Linked DNA regions of Homo sapiens. The protein of the gene in region 1 purifies or fractionates together with the protein of each later gene. This does not show direct contact. Each region holds a gene or a part of one and is shown in the gene's direction. Other genes may lie near its edges. The genes, in order: IGSF5 and PASK.

What was found.
Region 2: the proteins of IGSF5 (region 1) and PASK purify together in Homo sapiens (affinity purification with mass spectrometry; one large-scale study listed by BioGRID and IntAct). This does not show direct contact.

What each region holds. Positions count from the first base shown.
Region 1 is NC_000021.9:39,748,183-39,751,993, forward strand, and holds part of IGSF5 (immunoglobulin superfamily member 5), read left to right. Parts: intron 1-3,811. UniProt on the Homo sapiens protein: Provides, together with MAGI1, an adhesion machinery at tight junctions, which may regulate the permeability of kidney glomerulus and small intestinal epithelial cells. Mediates calcium-independent homophilic cell adhesion.
Region 2 is NC_000002.12:241,135,678-241,139,488, reverse strand, and holds part of PASK (PAS domain-containing serine/threonine-protein kinase), read left to right. Parts: intron 1-694; coding exon 695-835; intron 836-1,401; coding exon 1,402-1,536; intron 1,537-2,224; coding exon 2,225-2,485; intron 2,486-3,449; coding exon 3,450-3,618; intron 3,619-3,811. UniProt on the Homo sapiens protein: Serine/threonine-protein kinase involved in energy homeostasis and protein translation. Phosphorylates EEF1A1, GYS1, PDX1 and RPS6.

The sequences.
Region 1 (3,811 bases):
GTGCCAGCAGAGTCAGCGTCTTGGTGAGGGCTCTCTTCCTGGCTTGCAGGTGGCTTCCTTTTTGCTGTGTCTTCACATGACTTTTCCTTGAAGTGTGCAAGTGAAGAGAAAACAAGATCTTTTTTTTTTTTTTTTTTTTTTTTTTTGAGACAGCGTCTCTCTCTGTCACCCAGGCTGGAGTGCAGTGGCGCAATCTCGGCTCACTGCAACCTCCACCTCCTGGGTTCAAACAATTCTCCTGCCTCAGCCACTGGAGTAGCTGGGACTACAGGCACGTGCCATCACATCCGGCTAATTTTTGTGTTATTAGTAGAGACAGGGTTTCACCATATTGGCCAGGCTGGTCTGGAACTCCTGACCTCATGATCTGCCCACTTTGGCCTCTCAAGAGAACGAGATCTTATAAGGACCTGAGTCCCATCACGAGGGCTCCATTTTGAGGACCTTATGACCTTTCAAAGGCTTCATCTCTAAATACCATGACATTGGGAGTGAGGGCTTCAACATAGCAATTTCGGGGGAACACAATTCCGTTTATAGAAGCTAGAAAATAATGTGCTAGTTGTGGAAAGGAATGATTTTCACACTATAATTTTTTTATTTTAATGGAGTGGTTGTGGTCAACTGAAGTTCCACCAGAAAACAGCCAGTGAGGTTAGAAGTAAGCCTCAGCACTCACTGAATTGTGACGTGCAGCTGAAGTCATCCTGAGAAAGTTGCATTGGATGACAAAAAGGATACAAATGAGACAAGTGTCTGGTTATTGTATAACACACACAAAAATTAACTTTTCTGCTATCTTCTTAGGTTCAGCACCAGGCGCCTGTGGAAGAAACATAAAAGACAAATTAACGGGAGAAAAAAAATGTTTATGCCTTATGCATATGGGAGCCAACAAAGGAAGTAGCTGGCTCATTAATAGAGTTAAAGAGTTAAAAGGCTTATATATCTAACGTTGTAGGGGAGGAGAAGGGGGGAGAAAGGCTTCCTATAGAAAGAACAAATAGGTTTCTTTTGGAAAGACAAATAGGTTTTTTTTTTTTTTTTTGAAACAGAATCTCGCCATGTCACCCAGGCTGGAGTGCAGTGGCACGATCTCCACTCACTGCAACCTCCGCCTCCTGGGCTCAAGTGATTCTCCTGCCTCAGCCTCCCGAGTAGCTGGAATTACAGGTCCACATCACCACGCCCGGCTAATTATTGTATTTTTAGTAGAGACAGAATTTCGCCATGTTGGCCAGGCTGGTCTCGTACTCCTGACCTCAGGTGATCTGCCCGCCTTGGCCTCCCAAAGTGCTGGGATTACAGGCATGAGCCACCGTGCCCAGCCGGTCTCAATCAATTTAGAAAGCTTATTTTGCCAAGGTTAAGGACGCACCTATGACACAGCCTCAGGAGGCCCTGAAAACATGTGCCCAAAGTGGTCAGGGCACAGCCTGGTTTTATACATTTTGTGGAGGCATGAGACATCAATCAATAAGTGTAATGTGTACATTGGTTTGGTCTGGAAAGGTGGGACAATTCCAAGTGGGGGCTTCCAAGTTGTAGGTAGACAAGAGACACAAGGTTGATCAGCCTCTCACTGAATACACAATTTACATGTGAGAGAGGGGTAGAGGAATAGGCAGTTATGCCTTGTCTGACTCAATGAATCTGTATTTTTACTAAGCAATACGGCAGAGAAAGCAATCAGATACACATTTGTCTCAGGTAAGCAGAGAGATGACTTTGAGTTCTGGCCTTTGCTCCGCACCTGTGAAGATCAGCTACAATTTACATTGCCAGGGTGAAATTCAACGGAACTGTTTTTAAGGTAAAGATCTTGAGGCCCACAAGGGAATTTTTCTCATGGGCAAATTGTGAAGGAGGTATGCAGCTTTTTCATCTTTATAGCTATCTTATTTAGGAATAAAATGGGAGGCAGGTCTGCCTGATACAGTTCCCAGCTTGACTTTCTCCCTTTGGCTTAGTGATTTTGGGGTCCCGTGATTTATTTTCCTTTCACACCTTCAACTGGAAGGAAGAGCATTCTTCGCCTCCCCTGGCCCCATTTACTTGCTTCTTGGTCTTTAAATATGTTAGCTATATCTTCCATTGGTGCCTATTACATGCAGAAATCCTTGATTCTGAGTTCCCTGACAAGATTATCAAAAAGGACCATTAAAAAAGCAGACCTTTCACTGGGTGTGGTGGCTCCCACCTGTAATCCCGGCACTTTGGAAGGCTGAGGCTGGAGGACTGCTTGAGCCTAGGAGTTCAAGGTTGCAGTGACCTATGATCGTGCCACTGCACTCCAGCCTGGGTAACAGAGCAAGACACTGTCTCCAGAAAAAAAAAAAAAAAAGCAGTTCAGTATGGTGCTGAACATCAGGTTCTTGGGACACAGTCTTCCAGAACTGTCACAGTGCTCTGCAAAGCCACGTTCCTGTGTTCATCTCCTAGCACTTGAGGGTGGGGGGTTGGAGCTCTGCCCTATCCACCAGTCCTCCAGCAAATGCCATGGAAGCCACACTTACTCCTAATGGCTGTCTCATCCAGAGGACGCACCCTCGGGACTTTTTTCTTTCTTAAGAGGATTTGTTCTTGTGGATGTCAAGGTGCCTGGCTGGGAGAAGGAGCCAGTTCCACCAGCCGCTGGGCCTTTGCTGGAGGCAAGGTCAGTCAGCCAGGCAGCATGTTTTGGGCAGGAAGGATCTGTCAGCCTCCAGCTGGTGGAAGAGGACCAGGGCGGGAGCTGAGCAGTGCCTTGACTCCGAAGGACTTGGAAGAGGAGGGAGAGGGAGTGGAGGCCGGAGTGGAGAGGATAGACTGGCCCTGAGGCCTCTGCGTTCCCAGCCCGGGGCCTGGACTTCCTGTGTTTGGCTGCTGTTTGGAGCTTGGTGATGATTAATGAGGAAATACGCACTCTGAAGAGCTTATACCTCCCTGGACTGTGAGGCCACATCTGCATTTATAACACAGTCTGTGATGTGACAGAGCCATTTCTTGAGGAACTTTGGTTCTGGTGAGGCAGCATCAGGACTCTCTAGAGGCCAGACAAGAGTGTGTTTCTACATTTGTATGGAGAGAGGACAAGAGCCACGAAGAGGCCTTTAGGAAATGAAGCACCCTTGCTGAAGCCCTCCAAAGGGTTTACCTGTCATCTGGGGTAAGACAACTCCAGTTTGTGGCTCCCCTGTGACAGGTGTTTGTCAAGTGAGTTTCTCCATAGGGCCCCTCAAGCCCCGCACAGGCCGTTATCTGGGTTTCCCAGGAAAGTTCTGGACATTTGCACACATGATCTTCGCTTTCCAACTTCCACAGAGTTAAAAACTACAAGCGTGGGCTTCTCTGAGAAGTTCAGAATTTCTGGATGGTTTCTACTCAGTGAGTGTCGCTTTCACAGTGAACTGTTCTTGGGATGGGTTGAAAGCTGAGACTTGGCTGAAATTTGATGGGCTGGGGGGGGTGGGGTCAGGATTCAATTAATAGAAAGTTTTTAAAAAAACTTTTACCGACTTCGAGGGTACAAATGCAGTTTTGTTACATGGAGATATTGTGCAGTGGGGAAGTCTGGGCTTTTGGAAAGGACTGACTCATGACGTCTGCCATTCATTGGACAAGCTTGTAAATGCCTTTTCCACCCTCTAATGAGAAGCCTTAGGGAAAGTAGAATTCTCCCAAAGTCTCTGGAGGTTCTGAGAAGGCCGACCCTGAATGCAAGATGCTCAGAGCTGGAGTCTTCCGAGTGCAGGAGAAATGCCAGCACCTTTTTATTGAGCCGTGGCGGTGTCCAGGTTGCTCCTTAGTCCCTTGCGTGGTTTTTGTTACA
Region 2 (3,811 bases), on another chromosome or scaffold:
GGTGTTGGCCTGGAAGCATTTCCCTAGACAGTGTTGATTCTCTCACCTGTGCCATGTGTCCAACCTGGATGTTGACAGGTGAGCTGAGTTGGATGTGGAGGACTGAGCCCAAGGCATGGAAAAAGCCCAAGGCATGGCTGATTGTAGGGTTTCCCCTCGTCAGCCGGTCGGGGACTGGGGGAGTAGCGTTGGAGGGCAGTGGAGGTTGGGGTATGATCTGAGGCTCTAGTAGTCATCCAGATCCTCCAGGTTGCCTGTTTCCCACCTAGTGTGTGGCTTTCACACAGAAGACCCCATTGCTTGAACTGAACTGATGTCACAGGCTTAGGACCAATTGTATCAGAAAATCACTGGTTCAAGAAACTGACTACTAAGAAGAAAAAAACTAAGATATTCACCATGTGTTGGTGTCTGTTTCTTTAAGAAATAACAGATACTGCTTTTTTCACCCTGCAATATTACCATGAACTGAGAATGAAATCTACTCTCTTGATAAAACTTGCACTTGGAGATTTTAATGTTCAGTATGGGAAATCTTGTTTGTGCTTTGGTAAATTTCTGAAATGAAAATCAGGTAAGCAGAAGTTGAAAACGTTGCAGTGCCTGGAGTTTGGGCCTCCTGGAGGCAGGTGCCCCACCCATACTGGTCTTTTGGGTTCATGGCATGCAGGTGTGAACCTGTCTGTTTCCACAGGTGGACATCATCAGCCGTAGTGGGGAGAAGATTCCAGTGTCTGTGTGGATGAAGAGGATGCGGCAGGAGCGCCGCCTATGCTGCGTGGTGGTCCTGGAGCCCGTGGAGAGGGTCTCGACCTGGGTCGCTTTCCAGAGCGATGTGAGTGTGCAACTTTGCCTCATGTCTCATGGACGCTGGAGCCGGCGTCGTTCTCCTCTTCAGCAAGTGCTGGTCCCTGTCTCATTCCTTTGGGAAGAAAGAGAGGATGAGGAGCCTGGAGGGTCTGCCCAGTGGTACCCTCGCTGATTGCGTGTGCTTGGGCAGGGAACGAACTTCCTATACTTCAGTTCCTCACCTGTGAACTGGGGCATAATCATAACTCCTCATAAGATTGTTTCAACATTTAAATGAGATAATATATGTAAACCCCCCAGGATAGTAGCTGGCATTAGAGACAGCCCTCATATGTGAACTGGGATGTTATTAATGAGCTGTGGTGTGGGCCAGGCTCCTGAAGAACAAGAAGGCCCACAATTTAGGTACGTCTCTGGTAGAAGGAGACAGATGATGAAGCTCTTATCAAATTCATGTGTATATGTCTCTTGCCCTTCCGATGGAGAAGTCATGTTGGGGTCTTGCTTTTGGCTTGAACATATTGAAGCTTAGTTAAATTTACAGCTGGAGCACAAGAAGCTTTTATGATAAGCACGGGGCTTTTCCTCCAGGGCACCGTCACGTCATGTGACAGTCTCTTTGCTCATCTTCACGGGTACGTGTCTGGGGAGGACGTGGCTGGGCAGCATATCACAGACCTGATCCCTTCTGTGCAGCTCCCTCCTTCTGGCCAGCACATCCCAAAGGTAGGGCTCCTGACCTCCCGCACTGTGTGATGGGGTGGAGTTCTTAGCTCTGAATCCATAACTGGAGACGCAGACCAAGGGTTTCTGAAGGCAAGGGTGGCCTTAGGGGTGGGACATGCTCAGTTTTGAGCTTCCTGTGCGCTGAGGCCTTGACCAAGGGCCGGAGCCTATGTGGTCTCCCAGCTGACCACTCTTGTCCCCTGAGTCTTCTCCCAGGAGCTGGGCCACCCACAGAGGTGGATGCTGGGACGCTGCCCAAGGCTGAGGGGTGGGAGGTAACATCCACAGCTGCGCAGCTGGTGTAGTGCTGCCTGTGGGGCCAGTATCCTGGTGCCAGATCAAGGATGGCACAGTTGCCAGTGGCGTGGCTGAGCCCCGAGCCTGAGCCCCACAGTCCTCCCTCCCTCCCTCCCTGCTGGTGCCCGGCCCCTCACTGGGGTGTCTCACTTGCCCTGGGGTTGCTGTGCCTGGGGCGGCTCTGGACACTGAGTCCTCCCCACCCACAGAAGGGCTCTTTCCTGGGCCAGCTGGGCCTGGGAGGAGAGGGAAGGCAGAGCAGTGTGGGTGTGAGATGTCCTGGGGACCTTCCCCGATGACGTGGGGTAGAAGTCGGGTCGGACGCAGCACAGACTCAGTGCTCTGTCCACGTGAAACACGGCTTAAGCCAAACGACAAGCCTTTCTTTCAGAATCTCAAGATTCAGAGGTCTGTTGGAAGAGCCAGGGACGGTACCACCTTCCCTCTGAGCTTAAAGCTGAAATCCCAACCCAGCAGCGAGGAGGCGACCACCGGTGAGGCGGCCCCTGTGAGCGGCTACCGGGCATCTGTCTGGGTGTTCTGCACCATCAGTGGCCTCATCACCCTCCTGCCGGATGGGACCATCCACGGCATCAACCACAGCTTCGCGCTGACACTGTTTGGTTACGGAAAGACGGAGCTCCTGGGCAAGGTGGGGCTGCCCTGGGCGCCTGGCTCCCGTTCCCTGGGAGGAAGCTGCTGTGCTCTGCAGTGCGGGCTTGCGTGTGGCACAGGCCTCGCACCCGGCAAGCTCTCCAGCTCGCTCCTTTACCCAGGAAGGACCTTGGGTCCAGGGAGGGAGGTCCCTGCTCATGGCTGCCAAGCTCCTTCCTCTCCACCCTTCCCCAGCAACCACCGTCGGAGGGAGAGGAGCACTGTGCTTCGAAGCCCTGAGAGATCTGGTCTGACTGATGGACCAGGGTTTACGACACAACTGCGGGGGTTCATTTCTCACCCTAGTAGAAATACTAAAAAGTAGCTAAGCTGAATTGTAGTTACGTTAAATTTAAGTTAGTTAAAAAGCAGTTAGTGTTCTTCCTGGATGAGGGGTTCCCACAGGAGCTGAGGGCATTGAGACCTTGCAGGGATTTTGGGGGCATGGACACTTGTGCCCTCTGTGAGGTTAGAGCGGGTTCTGGCATTACAGCTATGGGCAGTGTCCCGGTGAGGGGGCCACACACAGGTTCAGAGGAAGCATCTGTCAGAGCAGCTCCTGGCCTGGGAGGAAGGCCCCACAGTCCTTCTGTCCTGGGTGCATGTCACTGTTCCGGCCACCAGTGAGCCGCGTGAGGTGAGGCTTGCAAACACAGGCTCCCAGATCCATCTAAACATGGGGCCAAAGGCCAGATGTCTGCTCCAAAGATGTGTCGATGTCACTGTAACTTGCCGCAGAGTATGTTTTTACCTTTTTCTTAAGGGGAAAATCACAGATCACATGTTGAGCATCTGAGGGGCTTCAGGTGCGTCGAAGGGCATTTGGCCCGAGGCCTTTCCTGACCTTAAGGGTGAACCCTCAGGGACTGGCTCTCCTTGTGTTCATTCCTCCCCCAGGGGGACGGTCCAGTGGGTCAGCGTGGATCCTCCAGGTTCTGAAATGTCCCTGCTTTGTTTTCTAGAATATCACTTTCCTGATTCCTGGTTTCTACAGCTACATGGACCTTGCGTACAACAGCTCATTACAGCTCCCAGACCTGGCCAGCTGCCTGGACGTCGGCAATGAGAGTGGGTGTGGGGAGAGAACCTTGGACCCGTGGCAGGGCCAGGACCCAGCTGAGGGGGGCCAGGGTAAGACGTCCTCTTCCTCCTGAATGCGCCTGTAGCTGCTGAGCCCCAGACAGCCCCATGCCTCTGAGACAGGGCTGGGAGGAGCAGGAGCTATTGTCCCTCCAGAGGCTCAGGGGTGGTGGGGGGCGGAGTAGGGGGTGACTGTTTTCTGGTTTGATGTTCCTCTCTGTCTCGGGGGCTGTGACATATTCTT